Homo sapiens: one gene and its partner. The protein of the gene in region 1 interacts with the protein of each later gene in a pairwise test. Each region holds a gene or a part of one and is shown in the gene's direction. Other genes may lie near its edges.

Evidence for each region. The genes of interacting proteins can lie anywhere in the genome.
Region 2: the proteins of SPARCL1 (region 1) and SKIL interact in a two-hybrid assay, tested with the Homo sapiens proteins (one large-scale study listed by BioGRID).

The regions. Positions count from the first base shown.
Region 1 is NC_000004.12:87,480,780-87,484,431, reverse strand, and holds part of SPARCL1 (SPARC-like protein 1 isoform 1 precursor), read left to right. Parts: intron 1-1,871; coding exon 1,872-2,008; intron 2,009-3,652.
Region 2 is NC_000003.12:170,381,642-170,385,293, forward strand, and holds part of SKIL (ski-like protein), read left to right. Parts: intron 1-2,891; coding exon 2,892-3,124; intron 3,125-3,652. UniProt on the Homo sapiens protein: May have regulatory role in cell division or differentiation in response to extracellular signals.

The DNA.
Region 1 (3,652 bases):
GGAACAGAGCAGATGGCTCAGAAATAATGCCACACATATACAGCCATCTGATATTTGACAAACCTGACAAAAATAAGCAATGGGGAAAGGATTCCTTATTTAATAAATGGTGCTGGGAAAACTGGCTAGCCATATGCAGAAAACTGAAACTGGATCCCTTCCTTACACTTCATACAAAAATTAACTCAAGATGGATTAAAGACTTAAACATAAGACCTAAAACCATAAAAACCCTAGAAGAAAACTTAGGCAATACCATTCAGGACATAGGCATGGGCAAAGGCTTCATGACTAAAACACCAAAAGCAATGGCAACAAAAGCCAAAATTGATTAATGGGATCTAATTAAACTAAAGAGCTTCTGCACAGCAAAAGAAACTATCATCAGAGTAAACAGGCAACCTACAGAATGGGAGAAAATTTTTGCAATCTGTCAATCTAACTAAGGGCTTATACCCAGAATCTACAAGGAACAGATACAAATTTACAAGAAAAAAACAACCCCATCAAAAAGTGGGTGAAGGATATGAACAGACACTTCTCAAAAAGAAGACATTTATGCAGCCAAAAAACATATGAAAAAAAGCTCATAATCACTCGTCATTAGAGAAATGCAAATCAAAACCACAATGAGATACCATCTCTCACCAGTTAGAATGGCGATCATTAAAAAGTCAGGAAACAACAGATACTGGAGAGGATGTGAAGAAATAGGAACGCTTTCATATTGTTGGTGGGAGTAAATTAGTTCAATCATTGTGGAAGACAGTGTGGCAATTCCTCAAGGATCTAGAACTACAAATACCATTTGATACAGCAATCCCATTACTGGGTATATACCCAAAGGGTTACAAATCATTCTACTATAAAGATGCATTCACACATATGTTTATTACAGCACTGTTCACAATAGTAAAGACTTGGAACCAACCAAAATGCCCATCAGTGATAGACTGGATAAAGAAAATATGACACATATACACCATGGAATACTATGCAGCCATAAAAAAGGATAAGTTCATGTCCTTTGCAGAGACATGGATGAAGCTGGAAACCATCATTCTCAGCAAACTAACACAGGAACAGAAAACCAAACACTGCATGTTCTCACTCATAAGTGGGAGTTGAACAGTGAAAACACATGGACACAGGGAGGGGAACATCATATACCAGGGCCTGTCAGGGGCTGGGGGACTAGGAGAGGGATAGCATTAGGAGAAATACCTAATGTAGATGATGGGTTGATGGGTGCAGCAAACCACTATGGCATGTGTATACCTATGTAACAAACCTGCACATTCTGCACATGTATCTCAGAACTTAAAGTATAATTAAAAAAAAAAAAAAACGGCAGTGATCCTGAGCTCTGGGGAGACTGCAATGAGCAGAGCCCTCCTGCCAACTTGTATTGGACTTGTAGCAGGATTGCAAAATTGACTTCTGTTTCTTTAAGCCACTGAGATTTAGCATTATTTCTTACTGTAGTATCAGCTAATAGCTACCTTTTTCTCTATTCAATAGCACTTGTGCCCTCCACCTACAAATTTCAACTCTGATTCTACAGCAGTGATTCTGGGGCCTAGCTGCACATCCAAATAGATCTTGGAGCTTTAAAAACATCCTGATGCCCAGACTTCACGCCAGACCAATCACATCAGAATTTACTTGATTGGAAGCTGGCATTTGGTATGTTTTTTAAAACCCCAGGCAATTTTGTTGTGCTGCTGCCAGGGCTGAGGACCACTGTCATAATAATGGGGACCTGAGAAAGCTCTGTCAGTTGCCAGAAGTCGTTAAGCTTCCTATTATGAGGACTTGCCATAGGACACAAATAAGCCCAAAGATTACAGTACATTTTCTGCTTGTAACAGCTATTCCTACTTGTACGGACTTTGAAGTGATTCAGTTTCCTCTACGGATGAGAGACTGGCTCAAGAATATCCTCATGCAGCTTTATGAAGCCAACTCTGAACACGCTGGTTATCTAAATGAGAAGCAGAGAAATAAAGTAAGTTATCCACAGGTTAGCTTCTTCAATGTCTGTCTACAGGGCATGAGGAAGAAAGACGTGGTGGGGGGGCTACCTACCTCTGCATACTGGCAAAAGCCCACTATGCTTCCCCATGCCCGGTTAGCCCATGTGGCTTAACAGAATAATAGATGTCACCATTCACGCCACAAGGTTTCAGACACCACCAAACCGCCCCATTCTTCCCAATGGTCAGTGGCCTGAATTAGGGCTCTTCAATTCCTACCTAGAGCAAGCTCTGGTTGAGCAAAGTTAATATAAATTTAGCATTGATCTAGTCAGTCCAAACATCTTATTTAAATCTAAGCATTTGTTTTGTTCTCATAGGCCAGACATAGATGTATGATATAAAGTAAATCCATTACTCAAAATATCAGTAATATATTAAGATTAAAAAGCACAGAACATTGATTCCAAAAGCTTCCAGAGAAAATTCATTCACCAGATAGTTATTGAGTGTATCCTGGGTGCCAGAAATTGACCTAAATACTGGAGATACAGCAACGAAAAGAAAATCTCTGCCTTCATGAGTTTACATTCTGGGTGAAGAGACAGACTCTAAACAAATAAGTATATATGTGTGTGTGTATGTAATGTTTGTATATGCATATATTTGTACATACATATATATGCATATATGCAATTATATATAGTAAAATGAGCATTTATGTAAATATAACCAAATCAGCAAATATATGTATAAGTATGTCAGTTGGGATTAAACATGGTGTGAAGACAAATAAAACAAGAAGGAGGGTGTGCATTAACTGTGTCAGATGCTGTTTATAGGTTATGAGTTGAAGACTGAGAATTGGCCAGGGATTTAGCATGTCAAAGTCATAGCTGACCTTGATAGGAACTGTTCCTGGGGTGGGAGCATGTTTCAGGAGGGAAGCTCCAGTGGACAGAGTTCAACAGAGACTAGGAGGAATGGATGCAGCAAGTATAGACAATCCTTTCAAGGAGTTTTGCTATGAAGAGATAAAGAGAAATGGGGTGGCAGCTGGAGTGGAAAGTGAGTACAAGAGTCCCACCTAGCAGTGGGAGATGGTAGAGGATGTTTGCACGCTTCTGGAAATAACCCAGTCAAGAAGGAAATGTTAGTGGGGAGCAGAGAATGCGCACAACTGCCAGAGGGCGTTCTTCGATACATGTCCCACCCAGAGGAGAGGGATTGGACTTAGGTTAGGAGCACAGGAAGGTCGCAGGGAGCAAAGTTGTGGTTCTGGGAGCAGGTGGAGGTCCTGTTTGCTTCCAATTACTCAGTGAAATAAGAGGCAACATCACAAGCTGAGAGTTTCACAGGCACTGCTCAAGAATAATTTCTAGCCCCCGTCTTGAATACCTTGTCACAGAGAGCCTTGAGGGTATTAGCTATGAAACAGGGAAATTTCAATGGGGCTGGCCAAGCAATAACACACCAGGGTGAAAGCAAGACTGAGTGGGCACTGGATGGATGACCTAGAAGACTAAGAGTGGACTCTGTCATCGGGGGAAGGAGCAGCACTTTTCACTAACTAATCACCTTAGTCAATTCAGCCCTTTTCATTAAAACCTCATAGTTTAAAAAAAAAAAAAAAAAGCAGCGAACATTACTTGGTTAAAAGAAAGAGGCAAAACATA
Region 2 (3,652 bases), on another chromosome or scaffold:
AGGCTGGTCTCGAACTCCTGACCTCAAGTGATCTGCCTGCCTCAGCCTCCCAAAGTGCTGGGATTACAGGTGTGAGCCACTGTGCCTGACCACGAATTTATTTCTTTATTTTCAGGCTTTCTTGTTAATCATAGATTATCTTTGAAAATTCAAAATTAGGCTGGGCGCGGTGGCTCATGCCTGTAATCCCAGCACTTTGGGAGGCCGAGGTGGGTGGATCATGAGGTCAGGAGATCGAGACCATCCTGGCTAACACAGTGAAACCCTGTCTCTACTAAAAATGCAAAAAAATTAGCCGGGCCTGGTGGCGGGCACCTGTAGTCCCAGCTACTCGGGAGGCTGAGGCAGGAGAATTGCTTGAACCTGGGAGGCAGAGCTTGCAGTGAGCCGAGATCGCGTCATTGCACTCCAGCCTAGGCGACAGAGCAAAACTGTCTCAAAAAAAAAGAAAAAAAGAAAATTCAAAATTATTTTTAAATAAGTACATTGGTATTTAATGTATTTTTTGTTTCTATTTATCATTATAGGGAAATGGTAGGTGAATTGTATTGTTACTCTTATTAGAAAAAATTTCAAAGAAAGAATCTGAAATGAAATGAATTGTAAATTGCACTGAATATTTGAAATAACCTTTACTATGTGTTTCTATGTGTTTTCTAGAAATAGGTCATTTTCTTTTTGCCCTCAAGTAAAAAATGGAAGTTCTCCTTTAATTTCTTACTTTTCTTCAAGAGGTAAACAAACTCTTCAAGAATTTGGTGTGCAACTTTGATTTTTTTTTTTTTTTTTTTGAGACAAAGTCTCACTGTGTTACCCAGACTGGAGTGCAGTGGCAGGATCTTGGCTCACTGCAACCTCTGCCTCCCAGGTTCAAGCAGTTCTCTTGTCATGGCATCCTGTAGCTGAGCCTGAGCGCCAGCTGTCACTCCTGGCTAATTTTTTTGTATTTTTAGTAGAGATGGGGTTTCACCATGTTGGCCAGGCTGGTTTTGAACCTCAGGTGATCTGCCAGCCTTGGCCTCCCAAAGTGCTGCTAGGATTACAGGTGTGAGCCACCGCCCCGAGCCGCAACTTCAATTTTTTTTTTTTTTTTTTGAGATGGAGTCTCGCTCTGTTGCCCAGGCTGGAGTGCAATGGTATGATCTCGGCTCACTGCAACCTCCGCCTCCCGGGTTCAAGCATTTCTCCTGCCTCAGCCTCCTGAGTAGCTGGGATTACAGGCATCCGCTGCTACGCCCAGCTAATTTTTGTATTTTTAGAAGAGACGAGGTTTCACCATGTTGGCCAGGCTGGTCTCGAACTCCTGACCTCAAGTGACCCACCTGCCATCAGCCTCCCAAAGTGCTGGGATTACAGGTATGAGTCACTGCACCCGGCCTGCAACTTTGATATTTTAAAAAGAAATTCTTTTGAAACTAAGAGCTTTCTTAATAACCGTACTTCTCAAAATCAGAGTTTTACTGTTTCAATAAATGTTCACCCTAGATTGTAAGTTTTTTGTTGTTGAGCCCTAGATTTTTTTCTACTAGTGTAAATCTGTATTCCCTCCAAGTATGGTGATAAGGGGACTGAGTCTTATTTACATTTGTACAATCACTACTTTACCTGTTGTATTTGCAGTAAGTCTTTTGAGCCCTATTAAACCTGTCAATTTTCTTGTCCTGTCAGAAAACTGAGATTTTGGCTCAAAAATGGATGTTATTAACAAAGGGGAACAATATAGATGTCTTAGTACAAAGAAAATGAAATGTAAGAGGAGATTGTCTGGAGTTCAGGGGATAGAGTGTCAAGTCTTAAATGGTTACATCTTTTTGCTAAGTGTTACTCAGAATATAGTTACAAATATGGTACTTAAATATCTAGCTGAAATTTGTTTGTCCCATGAGCTTCTCACATGAGTCTACTGGGCAATTTTATGTGAGTTTTGGTCAAAATTGGTAATCTCTTTTATCTTAGTTTTGCATAATTTATTGTTGCCATTTTATCAAATGAGTAGGAAGTAGTGAAGTATTTCAAGAAGATTGCTCAGTGGGGTTTGATACAAGAACTGCCCAGTAGCTGGGCGACATTCAGAGCTCTCTCTCTGAGGTATATAAGAAGAGCCCTGGGAGCTCCTCACTGAGCCTCCTGTGAGTCAGGACATAGCCTTGCAGTCTGCCACTGAAGCAGCCTCACCAAAGCAAAGATTCCCTGCTTTGGAAGGGTGGTGGGCAAGATAAAGTCCTCCAAAGTAGTTATAGATTATTCTTTTTCTGGAGTAAAACTTACCTGCTCAGAGTTGTTACACAGCTGTATAAAGTCCTTAATGCTTTTAATTCTCAGGTGGTTTTGAGGGAAGGAGAAGAGCCTGTGATTTTCCTTCTGTGTATCTTTTTAGTGCTTAGAAATTACTTGCCAAAAAAAAAAAAAAACACGAAATTACTTGCAAGCTGGTTATGGTTGCTTATGCCTGTAATCCTAGTGCTTTGGGAGTTGGAGGTGGGAGGGTATCACTTGAGCCCAGGAGTTCAAGACCAACTTGGCAGCATAGCAAGACCCTATCTCTAAAAAAAAATGGGTATGTGTGGTCCCAGCTACCTGGGATGCTGAGGCAGGAAGATTGCTTGAACCCAGGAGTTAGAGGTTACAGTGAGCCATGATCATACCACTACGCTCCAGCCTGGGTTACTTGCAAACTAACAAAAAATCCCTTATAATTTTGTTTGTAATGCCTAAAGTGTTGATTTTTTTCCTAAGAATTCTTTACTGTGACCTTTATTTTCTGAGTTGTAATATTGTCTGTTTTGGTTAGAAAAAAAAAAGTTTAACCACAGAAATGCATGTTACATATTTGATTTTTACTTAATTGTAATATGTAATATATGTCTTGTTTTGCTTTTACTTGTTTTCAGCTACTACTTATACATGTGTGATAAAGTGGTTGCCCCAAATGTGTCACTTACTTCTGCTGTATCCCAGTCTAAAGAGCTCACAAAGACAGAGGCAAGTAAGTCCATATCAAGACAGTCAGAGAAGGCTCACAGTAGTGGTAAACTTCAAAAAACAGTGTCTTATCCAGATGTCTCACTTGAGGAACAGGAGAAAATGGATTTAAAAACAAGTAGAGAATTATGTAGCCGTTTAGGTAAGTATTCAGAGATTATCTTTCTAAAATTAAATATCTAATGAACACATTTATTGAGCATTTTCAAACAGGCTTTTTGTTTGAGCTAAATTTTCAGATAATTGGAGCTTTTACCTTTAAAAATGCTACCCTTCAAAACTCTGGGTGATTTATTTTAATCTCAGTTGCTATACTTTTCTAGCGTGGTGATAGCTCAGGAGACTGAGATAGATACAGGCTACCTGGCCTCAGACTGCAAGTTATTTTTGTCCGAATTTTTTTCCTTTCCTACCTTTTATTTGCTGTCAGTCTTCAGGAGATCCTTGTTTTTCTTTCCTCCTTTTTTTTTCTTTTTTTGTGACAGAGTCTTTATCGCCTAGGCTGAAGTGCAGTGGTGAGATTGCGGTCACTGCAGCCTCAACCTTTGGGCTCAAGTGATCCTCCCACCTCACCCTCCCTAGTAGCTGGGACCAGAGGCGCACACCACTGTGCCTGGCTAATTAAAAAAAAAAATTTTTTTTTTTTTTTTTGTAGAGATGGTCTTGGTAT